Linked DNA regions of Homo sapiens: all the other regions are linked to region 1. Evidence: fine-mapped expression QTL. A gene starts in region 1. Each other region holds a variant in brackets. All regions are shown on one strand. Distances are between the middles of the regions. Region 1 holds the start of CLIP2 (CAP-Gly domain containing linker protein 2). Region 2 overlaps RFC2 (replication factor C subunit 2). Region 3 overlaps LAT2 (linker for activation of T cells family member 2). Region 4 overlaps CLIP2 (CAP-Gly domain containing linker protein 2).

What was found. PIP is the estimated chance that this variant, and not a neighbour inherited with it, causes the effect.
Region 2: its variant is the best candidate, but not a certain one, in a credible set for the expression of CLIP2 in whole blood (INTERVAL, PIP 0.89).
Region 3: its variant is the best candidate, but not a certain one, in a credible set for the expression of CLIP2 in T cells (TOPMed, PIP 0.54).
Region 4: its variant is the best candidate, but not a certain one, in a credible set for the expression of CLIP2 in aorta (GTEx, PIP 0.78).

The regions. Positions count from the first base shown.
Region 1 is chr7:74,286,699-74,292,177 of GRCh38, forward strand. It overlaps CLIP2 (CAP-Gly domain containing linker protein 2), which reads left to right and starts at 2,709. Exons shown (of 17, transcript NM_003388.5): 1 at 2,709-3,036. LOC107986742 (a long non-coding RNA gene) reads right to left here and starts at 2,609. Exons shown (of 2, transcript XR_001745024.2): 1 at 2,364-2,609. RefSeq lists silencers at 2,628-3,097, 3,118-3,187 and enhancers at 3,063-3,707, 3,708-4,351.
Region 2 is chr7:74,232,445-74,237,923 of GRCh38, forward strand. RFC2 (replication factor C subunit 2) reads right to left here. Exons shown (of 11, transcript NM_181471.3): 9 at 4,918-4,998; 10 at 3,088-3,201. Among named protein-coding and RNA genes, the nearest start is that of RFC2, 19 kb to the right of the region's middle. The variant T/C (reference allele first, on the strand shown) is at 3,051.
Region 3 is chr7:74,224,489-74,229,967 of GRCh38, forward strand. It overlaps LAT2 (linker for activation of T cells family member 2), which reads left to right. Exons shown (of 14, transcript NM_032464.3): 13 at 151-272; 14 at 4,456-5,346. The coding sequence ends at 254. Among named protein-coding and RNA genes, the nearest start is that of LAT2, 17 kb to the left of the region's middle. RefSeq lists an enhancer at 4,877-5,156. The variant A/C (reference allele first, on the strand shown) is at 2,445.
Region 4 is chr7:74,315,924-74,321,402 of GRCh38, forward strand. CLIP2 (CAP-Gly domain containing linker protein 2) reads left to right here. Exons shown (of 17, transcript NM_003388.5): 2 at 1,557-1,744. The coding sequence starts at 1,624. Among named protein-coding and RNA genes, the nearest start is that of CLIP2, 29 kb to the left of the region's middle. The variant A/G (reference allele first, on the strand shown) is at 2,675.

The DNA.
Region 1 (5,479 bases):
TTTTTGTATTTTAAGTAGAGACGGAGTTTCACCATGTTGGCCAGGCTGGTCTCGAACTCCTGACCTTGTGATCCGCCCGCCTTGGCCTCCCAAAGTGCTGGGATTACAGGTGTGAGCCACTGTGCCCGGCCCCCCAAATGCAAACTGTAACAAGACAGAAGCCTGTCTTCTCTCATCTGGAGCAAGAACAAAAGGTGTCCCTCTCAGGTGACTTGCTCTTTGAAGCTCCACTCACCAGCGGCCAGGTAAGGTCTGTTGACCGCAGGCTGTTGCTCTGAATAATACTGGGGGCCATCAGTGAGGGAGGCAGTACCTGTGAAGGTTGGGGGCCCCTGCCTACCTCCTGAGGCACATGTGGGAGGCTAGATCTGCTGGGCAGGGGCTGGTGAGCTCAGGTACATCCCAGCAAGACCCATGTCACCTTGGCAAATCCCTGCCCCATCCCGTCCCGTCCCGTCCCATCCCATCCCATCCCTTCTGTTGCCCAGGCTGGAGTGTAGTGGTATGATCTCCACTCACTGCAACCTTCGCCTTCTGGGTTCAAGCCATTCTCAAGCTTCACCCTCCCGAGTAGCTGGGATTACAGGCATGTACCACCACACCCAGCTATTTTTTGCATCTTCTGTAGAGATGGGGTTTCATCACGTTGGCCAGGCTGGTCTCGCACTCCTGACCTCAGGTTATCTGCCCGCCACCACCTCCTAAAGTGCTGGGATTACAGGTGTGAGCCACTGTGCCTGGCTGGTTTATAACTGTTGATATACAGGTTATGCATCCCAGCCACAAGGAACAATTAGCTCCCTGTTTCCTGAACACTGCCCTCTCCACCCTGAGTCCCCTCCCTCCCTATGGGTTCACACCTCCTACAGAAGCCCAGTCTTTCTGGAGTTCACTCTGAACCTCCTCCCTTATTAGTCTCCAAGTCTGGCTCTCCACACCAACTGGGCACCCCCTCAGGGCTGACCCCATGCCCAGCCTCCATCATTACAGCATTGCATGTTCGCTGAACTGAATTGAAACACTCTCCCCAATTTACAGATGGGGAAACTGAGGTCAAAATGTTTAGGCCAGGCACGGTGGCTCACAGCTGTAATCCCAGCACTTTGGGAGGCTGAGGTGGGAAGATCATCTGAAGCCAAGAGTTTAAGACCAGCCTGGACCCCAACATAATGAGACCCCATCTCTATAAAAAACACAAAAAATTAGCCGGGCATGGTGCATGCCCGTAGTCCCAGCTACTCTGGAGGCTGAGGCAGGAGGATCATTTGAGCCTGGGAGTTTGAGGCTGCAGTGAGCTGTAATCACACCACTGCACTCCAGCCTGGGTGACAGAGTGAGACCCCTTCTCTAAAAAAAGGTTCACTCACTTCTCAAAGATTATGGATACCAAGACAGTTGAGGGGTGGTAATGTTAACTTAGTAAGTTCATTCATTCATTCAACAAATATTACTGGATGTCTACCCTCTGCCAAGCATTGCACTGGGTCCCTTAGGGGATAGGAACAAGATCGTATGTGGCACTTCTCTCCCGCAGAACAGTGGTCTCACCATACAGACCACAACCTCCCCCAACACCCACATTCCTGCACTCAAGGGAAAAGCAGGGACATTTAAGCTGTGCTTTGAAGGGGGAATATGATTTGTCAAACAGAGAAAGGGGGCAGGGCAGGACTGGTAGAACGGCCAGCTAGGTCAAAGGCATCCAGGCGAGCTTATCAAGGGGGGACAGAGGGAAACCAAGCCACAGAAGCCAACCGCAGCCTGGGCATGGACAGGGGCTGGGGCTTGGTCACTGTTTAGTTCCTGAGCTGTCACTTGGCATCTGCCTCTCCACGCAGGAGGGGACCTGGCAGCTGCCTCAACTCCTCTGAAATAGCAGTACATGCATCCTGTCCTGGGGAGGGTTCATTTGTATCTTGGAAGCTGATCACCATGAGATCCTTTTTTTTTTTTCTTTTGGGACGGAGTCTCGCTCTGTCACCCAGGCTGAAGGGCCGTGGCTTGATCATGACTCACTGCAGCCTCGACCTCCTGGGCTCCAGCGATCCTCCCACCCCAGCCTCCCCAGTAGCTGGGACCGCAGGCGCGCGCCCAGCTAATTTTTGTATTTTTTGTAGAGACGAAGGTTACGTTGCCCAGGTTGTTCTCGGACTCTTGGCCTCAGGCGATCTGCACGCCTTGGCTTCCTGAAGTGCTGGGATTACAGGCGTGAGACACTGCCCAGGCTATGAGATCCTTGATAACCATGAGACCCTGTGCCACAGTTCCCCACCCACGCTGGCCCCAACACAGACCTGAAGTTTTCGCCCCAGCTGCACTGTCCCCCTCCTCATCCTTTCTGTCCAGCGCCAACAGCATCTCACCTTCCCAAGCTGCCGTCCTTCCCAATGACCAGAGACATCTTTGCAAGCATAGCATGGCTGGAGGATGCGTTTCACCAAACGCGATGTAAGCACCACCAGGTGCCCAGCGCGGAGGTGGATGTGGGCGAACCCTGGACGCCCCACAAAGGACAGCTGCGGCCTGGGAAGGGAAGGAGATGGAGCGGGGAGAGGGGGAAGAGGTTGCTCCGCGTTTTCCGCCCGCCCGCCTGCTTTCCGCGAGGCACTGAGGCCTGAAAACCGCGAGGCCGCCCACGCGCGCCTGACCCGCCCCCCCCTCCCGCCCGCCCCAGGCCCCGCCCTCCCGCGCCCGCCCCTGCGCCGGCCCCTTTTGTTCCCTCCCGGAGCCGGGCCGCTGGCTCCGCTGGCTCCGCTGGCTCCGCGGGCGCTCAGCTCGGCTCGGCCGCGGGGCGCGCAGGCGGCTGCTGGGCGGCCTCGGTGCGCGCCTCCCGCCTTCCCAGAGACGTGGCGCGAGGCCCGGGCCCTGAGCACCTATCGCGGGGATCCCCGGCGCCAGGAGGGGGTGCAGCCGGTGGGCAGCGCCGCGCAGGGAGGGGCCGCAGCATCCTCGCCCCCCAGCGCGCCCGGGCCCGAGAGGAGGAGGCCGGGGCTCTCCGGGCCTCCCGCCGCTTAGCCTGATGCTGGAAGGACGAAGGTAGGGGCTGCTGGAGGGGCCGAGGGAGGGGGTCGCGCGGGCAACAAAGGACGGAGAGATGCGGGGGGCGGCGGCCTGGCCGAAAGCGGGGCTGCGGGCCCGGAGGCATTGTCGGGGCGTGGGCGGGGGCGGGAGGGTTCGAGGCCGGCCGGTGGGCGTGGGCGGGAGCTGGCTGGGGTGTGCCCCAACTTCCCCGTTGCTTGTAGGAGAGGAGGGGGCACTGCTTGGGGTGCCAGGGTTGGGGGCTATTCCCGGGCTGCGGGTCCCCCTGTTGAAGGCATCACCAGCCTCATCGGGGTCCCTACCCTCGGACGGGGGTTTGGCCCTTCTGTTGGAGGGTCGCCCGTACCCCCTTCCAAGGGCAGAGCAAGACGGCTGGACGCGCCGCAGGGCTCTCTGGGCTCACAGAGCCTGGGGAGCACAGCCTGGTGGGCGCGGCCATGCAGCCCCCATCTCCAAACCTGGGGTCTGGGAGAACAGGGACTGCCCCCCTCTCCTCCCTGCTACACCCTCTGGGGTCGCCTGGCCGATGGCCTTTGCAAAACTTGGTTGAAGTGCTTGGCTGAGGTGGGGTAGGAGGAGATTGAGGCGGGCGGCTTCTCTCAGGGGGTGTCCCCCCAAGCTGGCGCTGGTGGCTGGTGAGGCAGCAGATTTTCTGCCCTCCTCCCGGGGAGGGGCGGCGGCCGCGGAGGATGCTTGGCTGAACCTTCAGGGCCCGCCCGTTTGGACCTTTCAGGCAGAGCTTGGGCCGAGCGGGTGCCCACTGGGCACTGCCACGCAGGCCCCAGCCCCACCCTGGGAAGGACGGGCAGAGGGAGCACCTTGGGGGGAAATCACCCACCCAGCAGTGTGTCCCCCAACGTCTGAGACCCCTCCTCTCACTTCTGGGTGAGAAGTGGGGGTCTGGGATGAGGGGGTCTGCCGTCACTCTTGCGCGATGCCTGAGGGAGGTGGGTGGGGTGGCCTAGGGCTGTGGGCAGAGGAGGAGGAGGGTGCGGGGAGCACCACGTGTGTGCTTCAGAAGCCTCTTCCCTTTCGGTTGTAAATGTAAACAATAAGCCCTTCATTCAGCTGCTGTTACCTGGCCTGGCACTTCTAGGGGCTGGCTGGTCCACAGGACAGCAGCCTCGGTGTCCCCAAAAAGTGCAGCCCCGGGGGTTGATGAGTGCATTAGTGGGGAAGCTGGGGGCATAGAGGGGGTCCCCTGGAGGATGGGGCAGACCAGGAAGCTTCATAGAGCATCTTGCAGAAGTTTGCTGCCAGGTTGCCTGAAGGGGGTTTCGTGCAGGAGAAATAGCGTGAATAAGGGCTTGGAGTCAGAAAAGGAGGCTATTGGGTTAGAGAAACAGCTTAGGATTTAAGGAACTTAGACCTGCGTTGAGCACAGGATGCATTCTTGTCTGCAGTGCCTTGCGGGGGAATGATGGGATTCTGGCTTCAGGACAGGTGGAGGCGGTGGAGATGGAGAGGGGCTCCAAAGGCAGAAGAGGCAGGTGGAGGCGCCTGGGAGGAGCCTCCTCCACACACACCTGTGTGCACCTGCAAACTCCAGCCCTCAGCACCGTGCAGGCTGGGAAGGTGGTGCCTGGAATTCTGCACTCAGAGCCCAAAGTCCCAGCAGGGGGAATTTACTCCAAGGAGCAGTAATCGCTTTCCGGCATCTGCTGTCTACCTTGGCGGTGAAGAGTTCAGATGCTGGAGCTTAACAGCCCGGGTTCAAATCCCAGCTCTGCCACTCCCTAGCTATGTGACCTTGCACATTGCATCTCTCTCTGCCTCGACATCCTCATCTGTAAAATTGGGATCCTTATGGTATCTGGCTTTTAGGGTTGTTAGGAGAACTGTGTGCCCTGTGACAGAGTAGATGTCCTATAAGTGTTGTTGCTGCCGTACAGAGTGGCTTCCTGGCCCCACTCACACACGTTTCAGGGAGAGGAGGCTCGTGCCCCTTCCAGGCTGTTTGTCCTTCTTCAGCACCCTTGCTGGTTAGCCCTGACCCGGCACCTGCTGTTCTCTGCCTCACTGCAGCCTCCTCCCTGGTCCTGCCTCCCTTGGTGATAGAAAGGCCATCTCCCCACAGCCCCAGTTGTCCCTGCTCCCCACCTGGCAGGCCTGCCCACGTGTGGTCCCCCAGTTCCCTCTTGGCCTCCCCTCCTGGCCCTGCCACCCTGACAGTTGATCCTGCCCTCTTTTTTTTTTTTTTTTTTGAAATGGAGTTTCACTCTTGTTGCCCAGACTTGAGTGCAATGGCGCGATCTTGGCTCACTGTAACCTCTGCCTCCTGGGTTCAAGCAATTCTGCCTCAGCCTCCCAAGTAGTTGGGATTACAGGCATGTGCCACCATGTCCGGCTAATTTTAGTATTTTTAGTAGAGACGGGGTTTCACCATGTTGGCCAGGCTGGTTTTGAACTCCTGACCTCAGGTGATCCACCTGCCTCAGGC
Region 2 (5,479 bases), 54 kb before region 1:
AGAAACTGTTAAGAAAATGGGTGGGGCGAGGGGGGGCGGGGTGGTGGCACGGAAAGCCAGGCTAGAGGAAAATATTTATATATCTGATAAAGAACTTGCATCCAGACTGTATAAAGAATTCTCAAAAATTCAGTAATAAAGTCCAGGCGTGGTGGCTCATGCCTGTAATCCCAGTACTTTGGGAGGTCAAGGCAGGTGGATCACGAGCCCAGGAGTTCGAGATCAGCCTGACCAACATGGTAAAACCCCATCTCTACTAAAAATACAAAAATTAGCCAGGTATGGTGGCGCACGCCTGTAATCCCAGCTACTCGGGAGGCTGAGGCAGGAGAATCACTTAAACCTGGGAGGCGAAGGTTGCAGTGAGCTGAGATAGTGCCACTGCACTCCAGCCTGGGCAACAGAGCAAGACTCCATCTCAAAAATAAATAAGTAAATAAATTCAGTAATAAAAATCAAACAACCCAATTAAAAAATGGGTAGATTTAGACCTGGAGCAGTAGCTCACACCTGTAATCCCAGCATTCTGGGAGGCTGAGGCAGGAGGATCACTTGCCCAGAGTTGGGCCTGGGCAACATAGCAACACCCAAACTCTACGAAAAAAAGAAAATAAAAATGACCCAAGTGTAGTGGCACATGCCTGCAGTCCCAGCTACTCGGGAGCCTGAGGTGGGAGGATTGCTTGAGCATGGAAGGTTGAGGCTGCAGTGAACTATGATCGCACCACTGCACTCCAGCCTGGGTGACAGAGCAAGACCCTGTCTCTCAAAAACATAAAAAAGGTAGGCCAGGCGCAGTGGCTCACACCTGTAATTCTAGCACTTTGGGAGGCCGAGGCGGGAGGATCACTTGAGCCCGGGAGTTCAAGACCAGCCTTGGCAACACGGGGACACCCCGTCTCCACCAAAAATATAAAAATTGGCCGGTCTTAACATGATCTCTAAACAAAAAATACAGTACAATTAAAATAAAAAATGTAAAAATTTTAAAAAATGGGTATATATGAACAGATGTTTCATCAAAGAAGATTCTGGATGGCAAACGAGCACATGATTAAATGTTCAGCATAGTAATTAGGGAAATGCAAATTAAAGGCACAATGAGATCTCATCACATGCCTATTAGGTTATTTTGTTGTTGTTGTTATTGGTTTTTTTTTTTTTTTTTTTTTTAAGATGGAGTCTCACTCTTGTCGCCCAAGCTGTAGTGCAGGGGTGTGATCTCAGCTCACTGCAACCTCCACCTCCTGGGTTCAAGCGATCCTCCTCCCTCAGCCGCCCGAGTAGCTGGGATTACAGGTGTAAGCCACTGCATCCGGTCATTACACACCTATTAGAATGGCTTAAAAACCAAACTGAGCACTCCATGTGGTGGCTAGGTTGAGGATCCTCCGGAATGCTGGTGGGAATGCACGTGCTGCAGCCACTTCGGAAAACCGTTTGGCAGTTCCTTATCGAGTAAAACATACACTTATCATTTTCCCAGGCAATTTCACCCCTGGGAACTTACTTGGGAAAAAGAAAAACTTAACATTTGCATTCACACTAATCCATATATGCAAATGTTTACACTGGCTTTATTCACAGTCACCACAATCTGTAAACCCAAATGTCCTCCAGCTGATGGACAGATAAGCAAACTGTGGTACACGCACAGGATGGATTACTTCTCAGTGATAACACGGACTGACTCATGGATAGAAGTACCAGCGTGGACACATCTGAAAGGCATTTCTGCTACAGTGAAAGAAAGAAGCCAAACTCACAAGGCTAAGTTCTACATGATCCCATTTATATGATATTCTGGAAAACTGTATCCCATGAAACAGAAACTACATCGGTAGTTTCCAAGTGGTAGTCGGGGAGGGGGCTGGCTTCAAAGGGACACATGAGTTGTTCTGGGATGACAGATTCTGCATCCTGATGGTGATAGTGTTTGCATGACTGAGTGCGTTTGTCCTGTACCTAACAGGCTGAATTTTACTCTATGTAAATTAAACCTCAATTAATCTAACCTTGAAAAATCAATCAATCAGTCAATACACAAGAGAGCCTTGAATGAAGAAAATCAGAACTGTGTGAAACAAACTTGGTCCTCAGGACAATCAGCCACGTTGATCTAGTTTGGACGTCTGTCCCCTTCCAATCTCATTTGGAATTTGGTCCCCAATGTGGGGATGTTTGGGTCATGAGGAAGATCCCACGTGAATGGCTTGGTGCCCACCCCAAGGTAGTGAGTGAGTTCTGGATCAATTAGGTCCCTGGAGAGCTGGCTGTTCAAATGAGCCTGGCACCTCCCTCCGTTCTCAACAGGTGGTCTCTGCATGCACAGGCTCCCACTTCCCCTTCCAACATGAGCAGAAGCAGCCTGAACCCCTCCCTAGAAGCAGATGCTGGCATCATGCTACATGTACAGCCTGCAGAACTGTGAGCCAAATCAACCTCTTTTCTTTCTACATTACCCAGTCTCTGGTATTCCTTTATAGTAACTCAAAGGAACTAAGACACAGCCTCCCTCCCACTGCAGTTGGGAAACACTGAGCACCTTCTAGATGCCAGGCCTGTGAGCAGAGAAAGCGAAGCCAGGGCCCACAGTCTTTTTTTTTTGTTTTGAGACAGTCTCGCTCTGCTGCCCAGGCTGGAGTGCAGTGGTGCGATCTTGGCTCACTGCAACCTCCACCTCCCAGGTTCAAGCGATCCTCCTCCCTCAGCCTCCCAAGTAGCTGGGATTATAGGCGCTTGCCACCACACCCAGCTAAGTTTTGTATTTTTAGTAGAGATGGGGCTTTGCCATGTTGGCCAGGCTGGTCTCAAACTCCTGACCTCAGGTGATCCGCCCACCTCGGCCTCCCAAAGTGCTGGGATTACAGGCATGAGCCACCACGCCCAGCCATGCCCAGCTAATTTTTGTATTTTTAGTAGACAGAGGCTTTCACTACGTTGGCCAGGCTGGTCTCGAACTCCTGACCTCAGGTGATCTGCCCACCTCGGCCTCCCAAAGTGCTGGGATTACAGGTGTGGCCCACAGCACCCGGCCACTATGGGCCACA[T/C]TCTTGAGGACAGAGGCATTTCTACATTCTCACCGACCTTGATAAACTCCAGTTTCAGGTATTCTGCCATTTGGAAAGTTTTACACACTCGAAAGATGTTGCCAATGATATCTTCTGGTGAGTAGCCCAGATGCCACAAGTGAGCAAGAATCTAGACAAAGGAGACAGAAAAGGCTGCTTACCACTTTAAACTGTAAGAAGACATGTGATTTTGAGACTCACCACAGCTGGTGGGGCCCACCCTTCAGGTCACATGGGGGTACCTTAACTGATTTTCATGGCAGATAGAGAGATAACATTGCAAATGTATTGTTGTTTTGCTTAAATATTTTTTTTTCAGTAATATAAAGATAAGAGTCTTGCTATATTGCCCAGGCTGGTCCCAAGTTCCCGGCCTCAAGCAATCCTCCTGCCTCGACCTCCAAAAGTGCTGGGATTACAGGCATGAGCCACTGAGCCCAGCCTATCGCAAATGTGTTAAGCTGTGTTGCAAAATGGTCTACTACCACACCCATGTAATCTCTTGATCCGGAGCTCTTAAAATGCTTTATTAATCTGATGACTAGGTATAGCAAAGTGGAAAAAGCAGACCATTCATCTGCTAGCTTCATCCAGCTGCAGTCCCAATGCAACCTCTGCAGGACGAGCCTGGAGCACACCCTGACTGGGTAATCCCAGCCTCCTGCTTCCCACCCACCCTGCCCCACCCAGGCTGCAGCGTCTGGAGGCAGGCCTTTTTGCCTTTGTTTTGGCATCTTGGGGTGAATTCAGGAGGCAGAGAAGCTCTGTGCCCACAAATCTGAAGGCTTTCTTCAGGTCTACTCAGGGACCCTGGGCCTGGGTCTCTGCTCAGTCTCCCCGCCTTGCACTCCGGTTTCACATTGGGTGGAACTATGCCCTAAACCCAGTCAACTTCCAACCTAGTTTGTTAGGGGGTAGGCAGAGGGAAACCATGACTGGATCAATGACCTTGAACCACACCAACCACACCACACCCATGTGGCTTGAGGTCGCCTGAACCCCAGCCACATCTGCTGGAATCTGCTCACAGCACTCAGTCCCATTGTGAGGCTAGAATCTTCCTGCTCCCTCCTCTCCTGGCTAGCTGGGGGCTGCTGGATCCCAGAATGCCTGTGCCTATGAGAATGGATGGGGACACTTCCCCTTAACTGGAGAGAAGATGGCTTCCCTGGAGAAGGAGCTAGGCTGGTCTTTCCTCCTGACTTTGGCTGACAAATTTCTCCTGCAGAGGATATAATTACAGGAGAAAAACACCATTTTGAATTCTAGTTCTACTGCTTTTAAACCATGACTTAGGGCTGGGCATAGTGACATGTGCCTGTAGTCCCAGCTACTTGGGAGGCTGAGGTGGGAGGATCGCCTGAGCCTGAGAGGTAGAGGCTACAGTGAGCTGTGACCGCGCCAGTGCATTCCGGCCTGGGCAACAGAGTAAGACCCTGTTTCTACATAAATAAATAAATAAATAAATAAACAAACACAGTGATTTAGGACAAGGAATTCAGCCTCTGAATCAGTTTTCTCATCAGTAAAGTGCACCCAACTCCTAGCATAATTTTTTTTTTCCAGTTCCTAGACAGATTAACACATAGCATGATATTAATAATTTTTTTTTTTTCCTGAGACAGGGTCTCACCATCACCCAGGCTGGGGTACAGTGGCGCAATCACAGCTCACTGCAGCCTTGACCTCCAAGGCTCAACAAATCCTCCTGCCTCAGTCTCCCAAGTAAGATTTCAAGAATGAATGGAGTGATGTGTATAATGTCCCTGGTACCAGAAGGGCTCCCGCTCTCCTCTGCCCAAGAAGTGAGCGGTTCCTCTGCCAGGACGGGGGGAAGGAGGCCAACCTTGTAGGCTTCGTCAATGTTGGCATTCACACAGTGCTGGATCATCTCCTTTACCAGCAGTGGGTGGGGCTCGTCACAGACCTGGCCAAAGGGAAAGGAAAGGCGGTCAGGGGCTAGAAGGGACAATGTGAGCGGGGAGGCCCCAACAGACCGACTTCCAGGCAATCTATGGGTAAAACTTCTCAACCTGTTGTTTTCATCAAATTCTCCAGCAACCAGGATGAGTTTGGGGAATGCTCCTCTCACCATCAAAGAGAAGTGCTTCCGGCACCAGGAAGATAAATTTCCCAAACATAAGACAGATGAACAAGAGAGCAACCAAGGGCCTGTGAAGGATGCTCACTTGGGGACAGCTTTAAAGTCACAAGTCATCTGTCTTAGATCACTTGGGGGGTCAGTTGCCCAGAACCACTTGGAATTCACTTTAGAACTGGGAGGTCTTTTGGGCCAATTCCCACCTCCACCCCGGAGTAGGAACTGGCCTTCCCTACAAAAGGTCCCCCAGCCTCAGCCTGACACCCTAAACAAGGGGTCAGGCTACTCCAGCAGGCAGGTGCATGGT
Region 3 (5,479 bases), 62 kb before region 1:
GAGACAGGACAGACACACACCGCCAGGACCTGTCGGGCGTGGCATTTCCCGCGGGCTGTTTTGTGGAGTCTGGGGGTCTGAGTCTGGGGGAGCAGTCATGGGTGTCTCCATGTGAACCACTCGATGACCTGTCTGCCCGCTGGTCCACAGGGCAACTCCAGAGAGAAGCATCCCCTGGCCCGGTGGGAAGCCCAGACGAGGAGGACGGGGAACCGGATTACGTGAATGGGGAGGTGGCAGCCACAGAAGCCTAGGGCAGACCAAGAAGAAAGGTACAGCCCCTGCTCTCCAGCTGCCGTGGGCCAAGGATTGGAGGTCTTGCCAAGCTGCAGGACCCCCAATCCAAGGGAACAGCCGAGAGTGTGGGTGGAGGGGCCATGGTGGGGGCTACAGGGTGCACCCATGGGTGCTCCAAGAGGGCAGCTTGGCGACTCTGTTCCTCTGTTCTGGCCAGGGGCGTCAGGCAGGGAATTCTGGTGACTTCAGGGGCAAAGAAGTGGGCACCGGGTGGGTCTCCCAACTCCACTGCATCCTCCTGGCTGCGACCTTGGACCAAGTGACAACCTCCCAGAACTTAGTTCCTCACTTGGTGCCCACCTCTCAGAGAAGACATCGCACACACGGCCGGGCACGGTGGCTCACGCCTGTAATCCCGGCACTTTGGGAGGCCGAGGCAGGCAGATCACCTGAGGTCACGAGTTCGAGACCAGCCTGGCCAACATGGTGAAACTTCATCTCTACTAAAAACACAAAAAATTAGCCAGGCATGGTGGTGGGTGCCTGTAGTCCCAGTTAGTTGGGAGGCTGAGGCAGGAGAATCATTTGAACCCTGAAGGCGGAGGTTGCGGTGAGTTAAGATCACATGCACTCAACCCTGGGTGACAGAGCGAGACTCCGTCTCAATAAATAAATAAAAAAACAGACATTGCACACAAAGCCTCAGCCCAGCAGGCACTCGGTCAATGCTGGAAACAGACAGGAGGCAGGGACGTTGGGAAATGTAACAGTGGCTGAGACGCGCTGAGGAGCCACCGCAGGCCAGTGAGATGGTGCGGCGCTAAGCGCTCACACGTGCACCATCTCTTAGCACCCAAAGCCACAGAGCAGTTAAGCCACCTGCCCAAGGCCACATCTTGAAGTAAGGGGAGGAGGAGATGGAATCCCCAGTGGTCAGACATCAGACATCAAAGCCTAGGCTGGGTCTACTGCTTGGGAAGCACGATGGACCCCCAGAGGGCCTTGAAGGCTGCCCAAAGTCCCCATCTGGGAGACCCAGGCCGTCATCTCAGCGAGCAGGCTGGAGGGTGGAAACCACAGTGAACCTGGGTGGTCAAGAGTCAGCCCCAGAGGCAGGTGCAGGAGTTTGAGCCAAATGTGCAGAGCCCCACGTCATTCATTCAACCAGTATCCACTGGGCCCCTGCTACGGGCAAGTCCTGCTCTAGGTGCTGGGAACACCAACATAAAGAACAGCAAACCCCTGACCCCTTAGAACTTGCATTCTGGTAGGAGAGAGAAAACAGATAGGGCTGGACACAGCGGTCATGCCTATAAATCCCAGCACTTCGGGAGGCTGAGGCGGGAGGATCCTTTGAGCCTCTGAGTTTGAGGCCAGCCTGGGCAACATAGCAAGACCTCTCTCTCTACAAAAACTTTTTTTTTTTTTTTTTGAGACAGAGTATCACTGTCACTCAGGCTGGAGTGCAGTGGCGCCATCTCGGCTCACTGCAACCTCCACCTCCTGGGTTCAAGCGATTCTCGTGCCTCAGCCTTCCAAGTAGCTGGGATTACAGGCACACGCCACCATGTCCAGCCTCTATAAAAACATTTAAAATTAGCCAGGCATGGTGGTGGATGCCCTAGAGTCCCACTGACTTGGGAGGCTGAGGTGGGAAGATCACTTGAGCCTGGGAGGTCAAGGTTGCAATGAGCCATGGTTGCTGCAGTGAGCTGTGGTCGTGCCACTGCACTCAAGCCTGGGCAACAGAGCAAGACCCCATCTCAAAAAAAAAATTTAAAAATTAGCTGGGCATAGTGGTGTGTACCTGTAGTCCCAGCTACTTGGGAGGCTGAGGCAGGAGGATCGCTTGAGCCCAGGAGTTCAAGGCTACAGTGAGCTATGATTGTACCACTGTACAGCCAGGATGACAGAGTGAGACCCTGTCAAAACAACAACAACAACAAGAAAACAGATAAGAAGACATGGCATGTTCACTGGTGGTAAGTCTGGCAGAGAGAAACAAAACAGGGAAGCGGGGCAGGAAGTAGTGTGGGGTTGTGGGCAAGACGCAGTGTTGCAATTTAAGGAAGGCGGCTAGGGAAGCCTTTCAGAGCTCCCTTCCTCACCCCATCTGGGGGAAGGACATCCAGGCAGAGGGGACAACAGAGGCCCCAGGGTGGAGTGAGCCCCACAGGTCTGAGCAAAGCCAGGGGCCAGGGAGGAGC[A/C]GGTGAGGGGAAACTAGTGGAGGTCGAGGCCGTTGGTGGGGAGGCTGACCAGGCAGGGCCAGCACTTGGGGTTTTACTGCATGAGATGGGAGGGAGGGAGGGAGATAGAAAGGTTGTTTTTTCTTTTTTTTTTTTTTTCGTTCCTGTCGCCCAGGCTGAAGTGCAATGGTGCAATCTTGGCTCACTGCAAACTCCGCCTCCTGGGTTCAAGCGATGCTCCTGCCTCAGCCTCCCGAGTAGCTGCGATTACAGGTGTCTGCCACCACACCCGGCCAATTTGTATTTATTTTATTTTATTTTGTTTTTTGAGAGGGAGTCTCGCTCTGTCACCCAGGCTGGAGTGCAGTGGCGTGATCTCGGCTCACTGCAACCTCTGCCTCCTGGGTTCAGGTTTCTCTTGCCTCAGCCTCCCGAGTAGCTGGGATTACAGGCACACGCCACAACACCTGGCTAATTTTTGTATTTTTAGTAGAGATGGGGTTTCACCATGTTGGCCAGGCTGGTCTCAAACTCCTGACCTAAAGTGATCGGCCCACCTCAGCCTCCCCAAGTGCTGGGATTACAGGCATGAGCTACCATGCCTGGCTAATGGGAAGGTTTTGTACAAAGACTGGCTGGATGTTTCTAATTCAATTTTTCTGGCTGTTGGGCAGACAAATGGGTACTGGGAGAGTGGGTACAGGAAGCCCAGGAAGGACCCAGGCACTGGTGCCATCTGGGCAAGGGGTGGCAGCAGTGGAGACAGGGGTAGGCAACATGGTGAAACGCTGTCTCTACATAATATACAAAAATTTGCCAGGTGTAGTGGCGCATACGTGTAGTCCCAGCTACTCGGAGGTTGAGGCGGGAGGATAGCTTGAGTCTAGGAGGTTGAGCTGCTGTGTGAGCTGTGATTGCACCACTGCACTCCAGCCTGGGCCACAGAGCAAGACGCTGTCTCAAAACAAAAACAAAAAGAAGAGGCCAGGCGCAGTGGCTCACGCCTGTAATCCCAGCACTTTGGGAGGCTGAGGCAGGCTGATCACCTGAGGTCAGGAGTTCGAGACCATCCTGGGCAACATGGGGAAACCCCATCTCTACTAAAAATACAAAAATTAGCCAGGTGTGGTGGCGTGTGCCTGTAATCCCAGCTACTCGGGAGGCTGAGGCACGAGAATCACTTGAACCTGGAAGGAGGAGGTTGCAGTGAGCTAAGATCGCACCATTGCACTCCAGCCTGGGCAACTACGTCTTAAAAAAAAAAAAAAAAAAAAAAAAAAAAAAGCCAGGCGCGGTGGCTCACGCCTGTAATCCCAGCACTTTGGGAGGCTGAGGCGGGCGGATCACAAGGTCAGGAGATCGAGACCATCCTGGCTAACACAGTGAAACCCCGTCTCTACTAAAAATACAAAAAATTAGCCGGGCATGGTGGCAGGCGCCTGTAGTCCCAGCTACTTGGGAGGCTGAGGCAAGAGAATGGCGTGAACCCGGGAGGCAGAGCTTGCAGTGAGCCGAGATCACGCCACTGCACTCCAGCCTGGGAGACAGAGCAAGACTCTGTCTCAAAAACACAAAAACAAACAAACAAAATGGGCCAGGCGTGGTGGCTCACGCCTGTAATCCCAGCACTTTGGGAAGCCGAGGTGGGCGGATCACGAGGTCAGGAGATCGAGACCATCCTGGCTAACATGGTGAAACCCTGTCTCTACTAAAAATACAAAAAAAAAAAAAAAAAATTAGCTGGGCGTGGTGGCGTAGTCCCAGCTACTTGGGAGGCTGAGGCAGGAGAATGGCGTGAACCTGAGAGGCGGAGCTTGCAGTGAGCCGAGATCGCGCCACCGCACTCCAGCCTGGGTGACAGAGTGAGACTCCATCTCAAAAAAAAAAAAAGAAACCCAGTTATTGATGTGCGGCTTCTGTTCTCAGCCAGGAGGCAGGCTCAATGGTGTCCCCAAACCAGTGGTTATGGTTCTCAGGAACAAAATACTGATCAAGGCAAACCTCCTTCTACAAACTTTCCTCTTCATTTAAGGAGCCAAGGCAAAGAGGGACCACTGTGCTCATGGACCCATCGCTGCCTTCCAAGGACCATTTCCCAGAGCTACTCAACTTTTAAGCCCCTGCCATGGTTGCTCCTGGAAGGAGAACCAGCCACCCTGAGGACCACCTGGCCATGCGTGCACAGCCTGGGAAAAGACAGTTACTCACGGGAGCTGCAGGCCCGTCACCAAGCCCTCTCCCGACCCAGGCTTTGTGGGGCAGGCACCTGGTACCAAGGGTAACCCGGCTCCTGGTATGGACGGATGCGCAGGATTTAGGATAAGCTGTCACCCAGTCCCCATAACAAAACCACTGTCCAACACTGGTATCTGTGTTCTTTTGTGCTATGAATTTGGATTCCTAATTGCTATTGTTGGTTGCTGGGGTTTTAAATGATTGATAAGCTTGTACAGTTAACTTATAGAGGGGGAGCCATATTTAACATTCTGGATTTCAGAGTAGAGATTTCTGTGTTGTCTCCTAGAAAGCATTACATGTAGTTTATTTCAGCATCCTTGTTGGGTGGGGCCCTGGCTCTCTTCCCCTTTGGTGGGACCTCCCCTTTCTTTGGGCTTCAGTTCACTCAGGAAGAAATGAGGCTGTCGCCATCTTTATGTGCTTCCAGTGGAAATGTCACTTGCTACAGACAATAGTGCATGAGAGTCTAGAGAAGTAGTGACCAGAACAGGGCAGAGTAGGTCCCCTCCATGGCCCTGAATCCTCCTCTGCTCCAGGGCTGGCCTCTGCAGAGCTGATTAAACAGTGTTGTGACTGTCTCATGGGAAGAGCTGGGGCCCAGAGGGACCTTGAGTCAGAAATGTTGCCAGAAAAAGTATCTCCTCCAACCAAAACATCTCAATAAAACCATTTTAGTTGAAAAGCAGTGATTATCCTGTGTCTCCTTTCTCCTGCTTCAGGTAAAAAACCTTTTATAAAAATATAAAAATTAGCCGGGCCTGGTGGTGCATGCCTGTAGTCTCAACTACTTGGGAGGCTGAGGCAGGAAAATCACTTGA
Region 4 (5,479 bases), 29 kb after region 1:
CAGGTTTGTTACATAGGTAAACGTGTGCCATGGTGGTTTGCTGCACCTATCAACCCATCACCTAGGTATTAAGCCCAGCATGCATCAGCTATTTTTCCTGATGCTCTCCCTCCCCCCGCCCCCACAACAGGCCCCATTGTGTTGTTCCCCTCCCTGTGTCCATGTGTTCTCATTGTCCAGCTCCGACTTACAAGTGAGAACATGTGGTGTTTGGTTTTCTTTTCCTGTGTTAGTTTGCTGAGGATAATGGCTTCCAACTCCATCCATGTCCCTGCAAAGGACATCATCTTGTTCTATTTTACGACTGCATTTTTTTGTTTTTGTTTTTGTTTTTGTTTTGAGACAGAGTCTTGCTCTGTCACCCAGGCTGGAGTGCAGTGGTGCCGTCATAGCTCACTGCAGCCTTGGCCTCTCAGGCTCAAAAAATCCTCCCACCTTTGCCCCACAAGTAGCTGGGACTACAGGCATGCGCCACCACGCCTGGCTAATTTTTTATTTTTTATTTTCTGTAGCGACAAAGTCTTGCTACGCTACCAAGGCTGGTTTTGAACTCCTGGCCTCAAGCAATCCTCCCACCTTGGCCTCCCAAAGTGTTAGGATTACAGGTGTGAGCCACTGCCCCCAGCCCTTTTAGGGCTTTTTTTTTTTTTCTTTTGAGACAAGAGTCTCACTCTGTTGTCCAGGCTGGAGTGCAGCAGCGTGACCTCGGCTTACTGCAACCACCGCCTCCTGGGTTCAAGTGATTCTTGTGCCTCAACCTCCCGAGTAGCTGGGACTACAGGCATGTGCTACTAAGCCTGGCTAATTTTTGTATTTTTAGTAGACACAGGGTTTCACCATGTTGGCCAGCCTGGTCTTGAACTCCTGACCTCAAGTGATCCACTCGCCTCAGCCTCCCAAAGTGCTGGGATTACAGGCATCAGCCACTGCACCTGGCCCCTTTTAGGGCTTTTAATGACCATAGTCAGCATGCAGCTCACGCTTTGAAAAGGTTTTACTCTGTCACCCAGGCTGGAGTGCCCTGGAGCTCACTGCAGCCTCAAACTCCTGGGCTCAAGCGATCCACCAGCCTCAGCCTCCCAGAGTGCTGGGATGACAGGCCACTGTACCCAGTCTAAAAGTGGTCTTTGTTGCAAACAGTTTGATGGATGCTCTTGGGATAGAAGATGAAACATCTTTCAATTGTAATAAATTTCTGCAACCAAATAAATAAAGACACAAAGCTTTAATGGTGGGAAGGCAGGCAGAGGTCATGGCTAGATGACGGCCTGGTGTGGAGTTGAGGCAGGTAACTGCACACCAGGATATAAGAGGGTAAGGCAATAGCCTCTCTGTGTGTTTGTCCTGCCCATGCAGTAGAGGGGGTGCGTGCTGGGATGGTGAGTCTGAGAGCGGGAATCTGGCCTGTGCGGCAACGGGAGCAGTGAGCTGATAGGTTAAATCGGGTGTTGCCTCGTCCAGCCCACCTCAGGAGGGATGTGTGTTGCTTGATGGCCCTTGAGGGTCTGGGGGCCATTGGGAAGTGATGATGTGATCTCTCCTGTCTCTGCCCGCAGGTGAGTGAAGATGGCAGAGAGGACGTGACCAGCACTCACCCTTGTCCACCTGCCCAGTGGCACCGCCATGCAGAAGCCCAGCGGCCTGAAGCCCCCCGGCCGTGGGGGGAAGCACTCCAGCCCCATGGGCCGGACATCTACTGGGTCAGCTTCATCCTCGGCGGCGGTGGCCGCTAGCTCCAAGGAAGGTACGTGGCACACCAAGGATGGGGGGTGAGGGGACTGGCTACATGGGATGAGTGTTCTTCTGGAAGAGCCCCAGGAGCACAGGCCACTCTGTGACCAATCTGATGGGGGACGCTGAGTGTCATGAGCTCCTGTAATGGGGCCTGATCAACACTGGGAGGTTGGCAGAGGTTTCCCCAGGGAGGGGACATGGGCGCTGAGGTCTGGAGGGTGAATAGGTGATTCACTAGCTGAAGAGGAAAAGGTTCAGGTACGGTGGCTCACGCCTGTAATCCCAGCACTTTGGGAGGCTGAGGCGGCTGGATCACTGGAGGTCAAGAGTTCGAGACCGAAACCAGCCTGGCCAACTTGGTGAAACCCCATCTCTACTAAAAATACAAAAATTAGCCAGGCGTGGTGGCAGGTGCCTGTAATCCCAGCTACTCGAGAGGCTGAGAGAGGAGAATCGCCTGGGCAACAGAGTGAGACTCTGTCTCAAAAATAAAAAAAAAAAGAGGGAAGAGTATTCCAAGTAGAGGGAACAGCACATGCAAATGCTCAGAGGCAGAAAGGAGCGTCATGCGTACAGAAGAGGGAGAGAGCGTGGGGGTGGCTGGGGCAGTCTGCTGCAATGCAGGTGGACCTGGGTGACTTGGAGGTGTGCGGGGAGTTTCATTTTCATCCTAATAATGAGAGCTACGGGAGGGTTTAAACCAAGATGAGTATGATGGAAGGAACTAGCAGCAATTTCTTACCTATTCTCTGCAGTTTAAAAAACTGTAATTGAGCTGGGCATGGAGGCTCATGCCTGTAATCTCAGCACTTTGGGAGGCCGAGGTGGAAGGATCACTTGAGGTCAGGAGTTCAAGACCAGCCTGGGCAACATGGGAAAACCCTGTCTCTGCTAAAAATACAAAAATTAGTCGGGCATGGTGGCGGGCGCCTATAGTCCC[A/G]GCTACTTGGGAGGCTAAGGCAGGAAAATCGTTTGAACTCAAGAGGAGGAGGTTGCAGTGAGCCGAGATCACACCACTGCACTCCAGCCTGGGCTACAAGAGTGAAACTCCATTTAAAAAAAAAATGACGATCGTTTGTTACTTATCACTTTGATAAATGATGCTGTGATGAACATCTTTGTGCACAAAGCCTGGCTTTGATGATACTCCAGCCAGCAGGATAGGTCACTGCCCATCTTATCTGATTGGTACAAAGTTTGGAGAGACAAACACAGCTGGGGCCAGACTGGACAACCTGGGTCCTGGGGAAGGGGGTCAAGGAAAGTTTGAGCCAAAATCATGGGCAGTTGGCAGGACAGGGTCCCTGGCAGAGCCAAATGGGCAGCGTGAAAGGGCGAGGAAGCTGCAGGGTGAGGCCCGTCGGCAGAAGCCCATGGGAAAGGCCTGCCCAGTGCAGCCTTGTGAAGGCCCAGGCTCTGCTCTAGGGTGGCAAATCCTCTCCAGCAGTGAGAAGCCAGACAAGAGAAAATTCGGGGGATGAGGTGGGGTGGGGAAGAGGTGTTCCACGTGGAGGGAATGGGTGATGCAAAGGCCCTGAGGCTGGAATGAATTTGATTTGTTAAGAAAGAAAAAGGCCGGGGACGGTGGCTCATGCCTGTAATCCCAGCACTATGGGAGGCCAACACTGGAGGATCACCTAGGTCAGGAGTTCGAGACCAGCCTGGCCAACATGGTGAAACCCCGTCTCTACTAAAAATACAAAAATTAGCGGGATGTGGTGGCACCTGTAATCCTAGCTACATGGGAGGCCGAGGCATGAGAATCGGTTGGACTTAGGAGGCGGAGGCTACAGTGAGCCGAGCTCATGCCACTGTACTCCAGCCTGGGCAACAGAACAAGACTCTGTCAAAAAATAAAATAAAATAAAGAAAGAAAGAGAAGCCAGCATGGTGGCTCACGCCTGTAATCCAGCACTTTGGGAGGCTGAGGCCAGAGGATCACTTGAGCCTAGGAGTTCCAGACCAGCCTGGGGAACATAGTGAGACCCCAGCTCTACAAAAAAAATTTTTTTAATTAGCCAGGCATGGTAGTGTGTGCCTGTAGTCCCAAGTACTCAGGAGGGTGAGGCAGGAGGATTGCTTGAGCCCAGGGGTTGGAGGCTGCAGTGAGCCATGATCACACCGCTGCACTCCAGCCTGAGTGACAGAGTGAGACCCTAAAAAAAAAAGAGAGAGAGAAAGAAGAAAAGTCTGGATGGAGAGGAGTGTGAAAAGAGGTTAGGGAGGGCAGCCAGGACAGATCTGAAGGACACAGGGTTTGGGTTTGTTTTAAGAGTGGTGGGGGCTGGGCACAGTGACTCAAGTTTGTAATCCCAGCTCTTTGGGAGGCTGAGGCGGGAGGATCACTTGAGGTTAGGAGACCAGCCTGGCCAACATGATGAAACCCTGTCTCTACTAAAAATACAAAAATTAGCTGTAATCCCAGCTACTCGAGAGGCTGAGGCAGGAGAATTGCTTGAACCCGGGAGGCGGAGTTTGCAGTGAACTGAGATTGCGCCACTGCACTCCAGCCTGGGCAATAGAGTGAGATTCCATCTCAAAAAAAAAAAAAAAAAAAAAGAAAGAAAAAGGAAAAAGAGCAGTGGGGGCCGGGCACAGTGACTCAAGCCTGTAATCCCAGCACTTTGGGAGGCTGAGGCAGGAGGATCGCTTGAGCAGTAGAGTTTGAGTCCAGCCTGAGCAACACAGCAAGACCTCTCATCTCTACTTAAAAAAAAAATTAGGCACGGTGGTGTATACCTGTGGTTCCAGTTACTTGGCAGCCTGAAGTAGGAGATCCGCTTGAGCCCAGGAGGTCGAGGCTGCGGTGAGTTTTGATCACACCACTGCACTCCAACCTGGGTGACCCAGCGAGACCCTGACTCAAAAACAAAACAAAAAAAGGATGGTGGGAGCGGCTGGAGGATACCAATGGAAGAGTGATGGGACCTTGTTCACATCCCTTGGGCCACTGTGCAGAGAACGGATTGTAGGGTTAAGAGCCAGGTGGGGATACCAGTGAGGAGGCTGTGGTTATCCGGGGGAGGGAAGGGCTCATTACCATGCGTGGGCAATCAGGGAAGACTTCCTGGAAGAAGCGTGAATGAGCTCAGCCTTGATAATGGGGGCAGGGCAGTGGGTGGAGTTTGAAAATGAGAAGAGGAGGAGGAGGAAGGATCTGCAGACAGTGGGGGAAGGTCGTGAGTCAAGGCACCCAGTGGGCTGAGCTTGGTCCAGTGAGGAGTGAGGCTGTGTAACCTAATGGCTAGAGAAGGGCACCCGCCCAGCCCAACCCTGGGGCTGGGGCATGGCGTGCAGCGAGAGAGTCTTATTGAACCTTCTGGGTACTTTCCCCTTTGTTCCTCCCCGATCTAGAGAGGCCCAAATTCTGGCTGTGATCCAGCTCTCATGCCCCTCCTAGCCCTGCTCCTGCTGTGTGACCCTGGGAGAGTGACCTAACCTCTCTGAGCCACAAATGGGATAATAGCATCTCCCTAATGGGATCAAGCGAGTTAATGAACATGGAGTGCCTGCAGGTAGAAAACTCATTAAAGATTAATTTCTTTCCCTTTCACCCATCCATCATCTCATTACAGGAAAATTTGAAAGTGATAAAAGAAAAAAACGTCCATTATCCTTTAACCTTCTCCCTTCCCCCTTACCACTTAACCTCATCACTGCACAGCCTAACCAGGATTCCGTGAAGGATGGACCATGTTTATCGTGGTCCCACAGGATTCTAACAGAGCTGAGCATTTCCTATTGC